3 linked regions of the Homo sapiens genome follow. The protein of the gene in region 3 interacts with the protein of the main gene of each other region in a biochemical or structural test. Each region holds a gene or a part of one and is shown on either strand. Other genes may lie near its edges.

The links.
Region 1: the proteins of SOX6 (region 3) and NFIC form a complex in vitro, tested with the Homo sapiens proteins (one study listed by BioGRID).
Region 2: the proteins of SOX6 (region 3) and HNF1B form a complex in vitro, tested with the Homo sapiens proteins (one study listed by BioGRID).

What each region holds. Positions count from the first base shown.
Region 1 is NC_000019.10:3,432,583-3,436,082, reverse strand, and holds part of NFIC (nuclear factor 1 C-type), read right to left. Parts: intron 2,566-3,500; coding exon 2,491-2,565; intron 1,807-2,490; coding exon 1,683-1,806; intron 1,001-1,682; coding exon 876-1,000; intron 1-875.
Region 2 is NC_000017.11:37,703,560-37,707,059, reverse strand, and holds part of HNF1B (hepatocyte nuclear factor 1-beta), read left to right. Parts: exon of another isoform or gene 1-2,010; coding exon 2,011-2,143; exon of another isoform or gene 2,144-2,320; intron 2,321-3,500. UniProt on the Homo sapiens protein: Transcription factor that binds to the inverted palindrome 5'-GTTAATNATTAAC-3'. Binds to the FPC element in the cAMP regulatory unit of the PLAU gene. Transcriptional activity is increased by coactivator PCBD1.
Region 3 is NC_000011.10:16,346,547-16,350,046, reverse strand, and holds part of SOX6 (transcription factor SOX-6), read left to right. Parts: intron 1-3,500. UniProt on the Homo sapiens protein: Transcription factor that plays a key role in several developmental processes, including neurogenesis, chondrocytes differentiation and cartilage formation.

The DNA.
Region 1 (3,500 bases), on a different chromosome or scaffold from region 3:
GCCGAGGCGGGCGAATCACCTGAGGTCGGGAGTTTGAGACCAGCCTGACCAACATGGTGAAACCCCGTCTGTACTAAAAATAGAAAAAATTAGCCGGGCATGGTGGTGCATGCCTGTAATCCCAGTTACTTGGGAGGCTGAGGTAGGACAATTGCTTGAACCAGGGAGGTGGAGGCTGCAGTGAGCGGAGATCGCGCCATTGCACTCCAGCCTGGGCAACAAGAGCGAAACTCCATCTCAAAAAAAAGAAAGAAAGAAAGAAAGAAAGAAAGACACCCCAGAGAGGACCCTTCTGAAGACAGAAAAGCAAGAGGATAAAATCTTCCTAGAAAACGACGCCATGGGAATGGAGACCCTACAGAAAGGAGACGAGTCTCCTGCAGAACCAGAAGATCCCATGGAGATGGGAACCTGGTTAAAAAAAAAAGTAACCTCAAGAAGGACCCCAATGAGAAGGGATCCGGCATCTCAGGACCTTCTAGAGGGGAAGAGGACAAACAGGGTCCCTACAGACGAGGGATTCTATGACAGATCCCAGGAAGAGGCGCCCTGTTGATCAGAGTCACTACTGAGTCCATCCTGCAGCTCGGGGACCCCACAGAGATGTGGCATTCACGGCCGGAGGGCAGGAGAGTCAGGCAGGGGACAGTCTCTGCCCTCCTTCGCCGCAGCGGAACCAAAGAGATCCGAGAACGCGAACCCGGACCGTACTTCCAGCCAAGCGCAGCTCGGGACGACTACAATTCCCAGGAGGCCCCGCGGCTCCAGGCCGGCTTCCTGCCCCGCGGCGCCCGCGCAGTGGCTGCCGGAAGACGTAGTTCCCGCCACGGTGACTCAGACCGGAAGGCCGGCTCCGCCCCCGCCACCAGCCCTACCTCCTTCCATGTCCTCCGTCCAGTTGCGGCTGCTACTCGTGGGCGAGCTGGGCGAAGTGTAGTAATCGCCGCCAGGGCTCGTGTCCACGTCTTCCTCCATCGAGCCCGATTTGTGCCGCTTGCTCCTTATGGGCGAGGGAAGGGGAGAGGCTGGTTACCAGGGAGACGCGGGGCGGGGGGCGCGACGGCGGGCTTTGCTACTTCCGGTCCTTAAGTGAGCGGGGGCGAGGGAGGTAGTATCGCGAGACATCGCGGGAGCCGCGGGCGTTCAGCCCGTTCCCTACGAACGCCTGTTCCAACCTGTCCATTGCTTGGATGGGACACCCGGGCCAGAGGCAGGGAGGGTCTCAACACAGGTCGGACACCAAGCTAGCATGGTGGAGACCAAAACCCAGGCAGCCTGGCTAATCTCCTGGCCACCTGTAGTCCTCAGAACTGCCTGTTAGGGGTATGATCCCATTTTATGGATGGGGAAACTGGGGCACACACAGTGTGACCTGCTCGAGGTCACAAAGCATATCTCAGCAACAACCTGTGTCTGCATTCTTCTGGGTGGGGAGGGTCCTAAGGGCTGGCTGAGCCGGCAGGACTTGAGGCTGGGGGAGCCCACGGTGGGCTGTCAGGGCTAGGGGAAGAGGCACGTGGGGCTGGCTGGGTTTTGAAGGATGAGATGAGTAGGAGTTTCTCAGGCCAGGTGAATCGTGAAAAGAGGTATTCCAGGGAGAGGAATGAGTCAGCTCGGGCCAGAGGGGATGGGTTGATGAATGGGGTCATGAAATGCCCAGAGGTGGGGACCTGGGTACTTACCCACTGGAGGAGGTGCTGGGCAGCGTTCTTCTGAGGCCAGTGCTGGCTGGGTTCAGGTCGTATGCCAGGTGCCCCTGCAGCTCCCCCAGGGAGAAGTTGGGTCCTGTTCCAGTCACCACGGGTGCTGCAGAGGGTGACAGAGGAGAGTGAGGCAGGAAGCAGTGCCCAGTGCTGCGGTTTGCTTTAGAGAGGTAGGGAAAGCCACTGGGTGCAGTCCAAAGGGGGACCCCCTTCCCATATTGGCCCGGTTCCTAGGGTGGCTGAAACCAGTTTTATTCTATGGATCAGAGGACCAAGGCCATGGGGAGAGGCCAAGAGCACACTGTGAGGCAGAGGTGTAGCCAAAGCTGGAGGCCAGGCTCTGCTGATCTGGACAGGGAAGGTGTCAGTCAGGGCTAAAGAAGGACAGCGCCCAGGACTCGCTGGGGTGGGATTCAGACAGTGTGTGACGGAATGTGCTGGGTCCCCAGCAGGTCAGCAGAGAAAGCAAGGGGACAGGAGGGGCGGGGTCCTTTGGGGTCTCCTGGGACAGGACAGTGGAGGCCCCAGGGAGGAGGAGGGATGCTGGGGCAGAAGTTTCCTTAGTTGCCATCCAGCATTTAGATTCTGTTTCCTGGAGAGGTGGGAGGGAGCCCTGACCTTGGGCTCTGGGAAGGGCCTGGCCACCTCCCTTTCTAGGAACCTTGGCTTAGTGACACAGGGGGTTGTCTGGAAAGGACAAGGAGTAGGGTGAGGGGGGTGGGCTCCTTCCTCCCTGCGGCCCCCTCCCCTCTCCAAGACCCAGCTCAGGGCTGACGGGAACACTCACTCCGGGACACTTGGATGAGCTCAGTGACGCTGAACACGCCGGAGGTGACAAAGCTCTCCTGGAAGTCGGTCGTGTCTGGAACAGGAAGACAGCGGGGTCAGTAGGCTGAGCTGGGCCTGTTTCCCTTCCCCACACTCCAGGGCTGCCTGGACTCCTGGGGGCTGGCCCGAGCCTGGACGTTCCCCCTGTCCATCCTGTGCTGTGGGGGAATGACAGCTCCAGTCTGATGGGGAAGGCCCCGTGGGGGGTCCTTGTCCAGTGTGGGCCTTCACACAGCCTTCATCCGGGTTCCCCCATGCTGTGGAATGCTGCATTCAAGTGAACAGCAGGCCGGGCGCAGTGGCTCATGCCTGTAATCCCAGCACTGTGGGAGGCCGAGGCAGGAGGAACGCTTGAGCTCAGGACTTCAAGACCAGCCTGGGGAACACAGCGAGACCCCATCTCTACAAAAAGTGTTAAAATTAGCCAGGTGTTGTGGTCCGTGCCTGTAGTCCCAGCTACTCAGGAGGCTGAGGCTGGAGGATCACTTGAGCCTGGGAGGTGGAGGCCGCAATGAACCATTGTTGTGCCACTGCACTCCAGCCTGGGAAACAGGGCGACACCCTCTCTTAAAAAACGAGTGGAGCCGGGTGCGGTGGCTCACGTCTGTAATCCCAGCACTTTGGGAGGCCGAGGCGGGAGGATCACAGGTCAGGAGATGGAGACCATCCTGGCTAACACAGTGAAACCCTGTCTCCTAAAAATACAAAAATTAGCCGGGCGTGGTGGCAGGCGCCTGTAGTCCCAGCTACCTGGGAGGCTGAGGCAGGAGAATGGTGTGAACCCGAGAGGTGGAGCTTGCAGTGAGCCGAGATTGCGCCACTGCACTCCATCCAGCCTGGGCAACAGAGCAAGACTCCATCTCAAAAAAAAAAAAAAAAAAGAGCGGAAAGCGGAGGCCTGGGCTCACATCGGCTCCATCACCTGCCTCGGTGTGTGATCTGGGGCAGGTCACTTTCCCTCTCTCAGCC
Region 2 (3,500 bases), on a different chromosome or scaffold from region 3:
TAGTAAGTGAATAAGATTTAAGCTCCAGCAAAACTGGATTTTAACTCTGGCTTTTTCACTTATGAGTCAAGTGACATAGAAATAGTCTCAACTCTTCTGAAGATCAGTTTCTTAATCTGTAATACAGGGACTGATAGTAATAATGCCTGCCCTACTTGTGTCATTATCTATTAAGGACAATCAGTGAAAGCACTTTACAAATCCTAAAGTCACACACATTTAAATTATTTTTATCATTGGCCTCCACACTTCTCTTATACCATTAACCAAATGCTGAAATGTCAGAGAAATTACTGTCACTTGGTTGACTTTCTCCAAAGGAACTACATTACCCAAGAGATTCAGTCTGAGGGCAGGCTACGGATTTTTTTTTTTTTTTTTTTAATGACTGGTATTTTGAAAAACAAGTCCAGCAAACAGGCTGCTTCTCTCTTGTTTGATGTGGTCAGAATTCCTTCTTGGTCATGTGACCCCCTAACATTTCTTGATGCTTATTTTAAAAACACAAACAAACCTGTTTGGTTTTTGCTTTCTTTCTTTTTCAAATTAACCTTGGACACTATGGAGTTGACCGGAAGGGCAGGGTGGGAGATAGCATCTTACCTGGGTGCTGGTGGGAGAGCTATCGTCTGAAAAGCTCTGGGAAGTGAAAGATGGAAGAAGGAAAGTTGAGTTACTCAGACATCTGGTGCATCCTAACCCTAAAGCACCTCTCGGGGTTCCTGATGCTCTCAAGCACGCCTGGGTTCAGAATAAGAGGGGCCAGTCCTTTCTTCATAATAACTTTAAAAATTATTTTGAGGCTGGGCACAGTGGCTCACACCTGTAATCCCAGCACTTTGGGAGGCTGAGGTGGGCACATAACCTGAGGTCAGGAGTTCAAGACCAGCCTGGTCAACATAGTGAAATCCCGTCTCTACTAAAAATACAAAAATCAGCCAGGCGTGGTGGTAGGTGCCTGTGGTTCCATCCACTCGGGAGGCTGAGGCAGGAGAATTGCTTGAACCCACAAGGCGGAGGTTGCAGTGAGCAGAGATCATGCCACTGCACTCCAGCCTGGGCAACAGAGCTGGACTCCACCTCAAAAAAAGAAAAAAATTATTTTGAAACTATAAGTAGTAAACTAATGTATCATGGAAAAAGTGTAGGTGTGTTTAAAACTGATCGCGCCCTTATAATTACAATTAGAGTTAATGGGAAAACATTGGAAACATTTCTGATAACATCAGAAGCAAAATAAGCACATCTATTACAGCTGTTATTGTTTAATACTGTAAGTTCTAAGCAATATAATAGGACATGTAGACATATCAGTACTAGCAAGGAAAAGACCCTGTTACCATCAGATGCTTGTATTACAATTACATACTTGGAAAAAAATCAATGAGGAAAAGACACTAGTAGGATTCAGTGAAGTGGTCATGTACAAAGTAAATACACCAAAATCAGTAGCTTTCTCATACTAATCTGTCATTAAAATATAATGGTGATTACAATATAGGATCCTTGACCAAAAAAGAAAAAAAATTTTGTAATGTGTACTGGAGATGTGGAAAAAGTAGAGAAACCTTGTAATGGCTAATCTCCCCCAACCCTTAGTAATTTCTGAAGCTGGCTAGTAACTCAGACAGTCAACAATAGATGCACCATGAGGGCAGGGATCACTGTCTGTTTTACTTACTGCTCTATCCCCAGCACCTAGAATAGTGTCTGTCCCACAGTAGACACTTAATAATTGTGTTTTTTTCTTTTTTTGTAGAGATGATTTCACCATGTTGCCCAGGCTGGTCTTGAACTCCTGAGCTCAGGCAGTCCTCCTGTCTTGGCTTCCCAAAGTGCTGGGATTACAGGGGTGAAGCACCATGCCCAGCCAATAATTGTTATTGAGTGAATGAAGGAATGAATTTGAGAACTAGTCATGCCAAGGAATCGCTAAGTCACATCGTGTTGGAAACTGCTCTTTGTGGTCCAAGTCCACCCATGTTTCTCTTGTTTTTTTCTCTCCATCAGATCTCAGTCTCAGGAGGAGGTTTGCCCCCAGTCAGCACCTTGACGAATATCCACAGCCTCTCCCACCATAATCCCCAGCAATCTCAAAACCTCATCATGACACCCCTCTCTGGAGTCATGGCAATTGCACAAAGTAAGTTCTATTCTTGGTTGGAAAACTTGGGGGCAGGGAGAAGAAGAATGGGAAGCAAATTAATGTGGTGAAAAATAACTGTAGGTCTCCTTCAAACTCACCCACGACTAGTAGATTTGGTTTAACTTCTTTAGTTTCTCATCTGTCTCCTTAAATCCAATATTTGGATTGTTTAGCCTAAAACAAGAGAAAATTGTGGAATGGATTTGGATCCTGGTCACAGTTTAGCAGCTGTGCATCCTGGGTCAAATCATTGAACCTTCAGGAGATTCAATGTCCTCATCTATAAAATAGGTTGTTAAAGTGATCAACTGACAGTGAATATGAACATGCTTATAAATCTCTAAAGCATGAATATGTATAACATCGTAGCTTACACTTTGTCTTGAGTTCATTCCTATCACTAAGTAGGTGGTAGATTTTTCAGGAGGTTCTTTCTGTTTGGTGATGATGAAGTAAGAATGACAGGTTTCCTTCTAAATGGGGAGTTTTGTGTGGTATATGAAATCTCCTTGGCCAGCAGTGAAAATACACCAAGGGAGGATCCAGAGGGAAACTGCCATTGTATCTGAGAGCTTTGAAAACTTTAAGGAGAAAAAGCTTGCTTTGGCACATCACACGCCTGAAGACACGGAGATGGATCAGGTCCCTCCAGCTCCAGGAGGCTCATATTCAACAGCAAGCCTGTGCCCTCCCATACATGGGCCATCTTGAGGCATGAGAAGGCTGAAGGGAACTGTGGTTGTGGATATCTCTTTGAGAGTTTTAATGTTGATGAGTATTCAGCATATTTCCAGCTTCACTATGACAGCTCAGGTGTCGTTGTTTCTCAAAACCATCCTTGTGACCCTTGGATGTATTGCTGGATGTCTTGGGAGAGATCTAAGGGTAACACATTGGTCATCTTTCTTTCAACCTTGTATTGCTCCATTGTCCTCTTACCTTCCTTGTATCTAGGGCTCATGTTGGCCACCTCTTTGTTTTGTTTCTGCCTTTTTCTTTCTTCCCTCTTCTCTCCCTAAATCAGCTTTAGCTAGGGTCGGAACTTGGATTCTCACTTCTGAAGAGAATGACTTACACATCCTTTGAGGTCAGAACAGGGCTAAGCCCATTGGAGGCACACAAATTTATTGAATATGTGTGGCTCTCACTCTATCCTTAGCTGCTTGGAAATTGACACACAGTGCATTGATTTTGGCAGAAGGAAAATGGGAATGGGGAAGCATTTAGAGAACTCACAATATAAATGATCATTTTAAATGTATTGCCTTTTGACTGGGCCCTCTGGTATATGGAATATGGTAATTATACTAATACCAGAGTTTGGAATGAGATAAGATACCTAAAACCAGCTTGT
Region 3 (3,500 bases):
TCCCCCTTTTTTGCTAAACTGGTCTATTTTTGTGTTAAATGATCATAAATGATGTTATTTAGAACAGAAGTATCTGTTCTAAAATTGGAATGGAATATTAGGCATATCAGGCATTAGCTATAGGAAATATTTCAAAAATGAAATGGTTAAAATGGGAATATCAGGCATTAGCTGTAGGAAATATTGGTAAAATGGCATATCAGGCATATGGTAAAAATGGAATGTCAGGCATATCAGGCATTAGCTGTAGGAAATATTTTCTTTCTTGCTTGCTTTCCCTTCCTTCCCTTCCTTCCTTCCTTCCTTCCTTCCTTCCTTCCTTCCTTCCTTCTTCCTTCCTTCCTTCCTTCCTTCCTTCCTTCCTTCCTTCCTCCCTCCCTCCCTCTCTTTCTTCTGTTTTCTTTCCTCTTCTTATTTATTTATTTATTTTTTTGACAGAGCCTTGCTCTGTCACCCAGGCTAGAGTGCAATGGCACGCTCTTGGCTCACTGCAACCTCCACCTCCCAGGTTCAAGCAATTCTCCTGCCTCAACTTCCTGCAGAGCTGGGATTACAGGCGCGCACCGCCATGGGTGGCTAATTTTCATATTTTTAGTAGAGACAGGTTTCACCTTGTTGGCCAGGCTGGTCTCAAACTCCTGACCTCAAGTGATCCACCTGCCTTAGCTTCCCAAAGTGCTGGGATTACAGGCATGAGCCACCTCAGCAGGCCTAGCTGTAGGACATATTTTCTGATAAAAATGACATTATTGATGGAAAAAGCCCCTATATTTAGAGTATTTGGAGAATGATTAGAGTTTTTGCTGTATTAGAAGGAATGATATAAATTTGAATGTCTTAAATCTTGAGTTAGTTATGAAATAAAATCACTTTTCTAAGAGAGCTTTTAAAATGCAGTTTGTTTGGAGCATTATCTATATTAATTATATTCATTTTAATTTGTATCTTAGGAATCTTTGGAGTGCGGGAGAACCATGTCAAATTTTCAGTCCTTTAATATTAATTTAGCTTCAGGTTACTGAGATCACTTTGGTAGTGAGCCAATATGGTCACCAAATTTGGATGAGAATTCTAGATGCTGAGTGTCTGAAAAACAGTTGTGGATATGTGTCCTATGCTTGGTTATTTTTCTAAACTTGTGTAGAGATATTAAATCACTTTCATGAGATGAATTTTCAGCATCAAAAATATAAGCTACTTTAGAAGACGAAAACGAAGCGTAACTCTCTGTTAAAGAAAAATTAAGACAAAAGCTTTTGAAGTTGAATCCTGCCTGTCCTTTTCAACCTTCAGGAAGGTTGCTAGGCTAGAAAGACATCTCTAAAAACAAAGTTTTTATAATGGAAAATGCGCTGACATACCCTTTAATGATATAGGTTCAAATGGCAGTGATATAATTTGTAGGTCTTTGTGCTTGGAAATGTCTGGAAAGTTGTAGTGCTCTTATTAATATTTGTAGTCACTTTTTATGAATTAGTATTTCTTGTTGTTTTTCATTTTTATTTAATTTAAGATGAATAAATCTTATTATTAAATAACATGAAGATTGCATCATAGCCTTCAGGATTAAAATGCACTCCTTTTTTGGGGAAGAAGATAGATGTGTTTCCTCTGTTGAAAAATTTAGATTTGATATTTTGTTTTCTTCATGGTAATTATGTTTGCACTTTGCTGATCACTAGTTGTGCATTATTACAATGGAAGGTGACAATTTGATTGTCTTCAATTGGAGAAACAAGTAATTTTATATTCACTAAGCTGTCAGGTAACACTAACTCACAGTACTAAGAGCTCCTGGCAATGCAGCTTGGCACCTATATTTAACTGCTTTGATGCTTGTGTAACCTCTGCTGAATCAGAAGTACTTTGCCTGCTGGAAATGATTTTCAGGCTTGTACAATGAGGTTTTCATTAAGTAGACAAACTGAAAATGAACTGCAAAGCCATGGTTGTTTTTCTCCTCCCCTTTTACCTTCTCCCCTTTTCCCCTCCTCTTCCCCTCCCTTTCTACTCTCACTCCCTTCCTCCCTCCCTCTTCTTTCTCTTCTTCTTGTCTGTCTTTGAATAGGAACCTGAAACTTATACCTTATTTCATCACATGAAAGAGTGGACTTGGTAGATTGCCTTATTTAGCTAAAGGAGGACCTCAGAGATTAGTTTCTTTATATAAATTTGTTCAGTGTTTGTGTGAATTTTCATATTTTGAAACAATCTAAAGTATCAATATTCATTTTTCTCTTTTTTTCTGGAAATATTGAAGAGGGAAATTCGAGTTAAGGATGGAAAAGTATACAGTGACAATTTCCTACACTTTGTCTCTGAGAAGTTATTGTTCTGGTTTATGATTTTTATTAATATAATTGGATAAGATATCCTGTACTTGGGCTTCCATATTAATGGGCCAGTTTCACGCTGACAGAGAGATGTCTGTTTATTCACTTAAAAAATTGTAGTTCTCATTTTATATGAAGAGGAAATTCAAAGTGAACTTACATAAATAAATTCATTCTGCTATTATTTTAGACAGCTTTCTTTCACTCCAGCCACACAGAGGTCTTTCGTTGAGCTATAAAGTCATTGTGCTAGATTAAAATCCTCTAAGTTAGTGTATATTTATAGTAGCCATTGTTAGGTTTTACTCTTATTGTTAAGTCACTGAATTTATTTATAAAATCTGGGCCTGGCTTTCCAAAGCAAAAATTCCAAAAAGTTATTGGTAGATAAACTGTGAGAAGACCATATTATTTATATCAAGCAAAAAGTATAGATAGAGGTTACATGAAGTCAAGTTGTTTTGATCCCAGGAAGAAACCAGATACTCAGGGACACTTAATAATTATAGGTTTTCCATAGGCAGTCAGTCAGCAGGCCAGTCATTAGGCTGGCTGCCTGTCTCTTCCAGCAGATACTAACCAATTAGACAGAGGTAGTTACGTGATGTAACATTATCAGGAGAAACAATTCATGAGTCAAAGCATTCCAAGACATATGAGCTCTAGTCCAAAGAACAGTCTTAAGCTACATAAAGTGACAGCAATATTGTCAGCTAAATATAAACTCTAGAAACACAAACTTTGATGACTTAAGAAGAATCTGTTCCAGGTAGTTCTTGTTTTGTAAGAAGCTCAGAGGGCCTTTGGAGACAATTTTGGTGCTTTGCTGTGAAAAATTGGACCCTTAGAAAAGTCAGAATCCATTAATTTAAGCACTTTCTTAGACACACTTCAAGGGCTTCAAATGTATTTCATTTACCTCATCTCCATTGATTTGACAGCTAATTCTAATCAGTGAGTTTTCTTCTAATAGTTACTGTCCTCATGTGTTACCATATCTGTTCTGAAAGTGCTGCTACAAACTCTAGAAGATAGGTTTATAACTTTCCAAGGTAATTCTGAAAACAGTTACCTTCTTTTCACCTGAATTTTCTTAATTACTTAATGGAAGAAATAGAAAAATCTGGCAGAAGCAGAGGGAAGTTTGGAGGTGGATTGGGGGAGAGG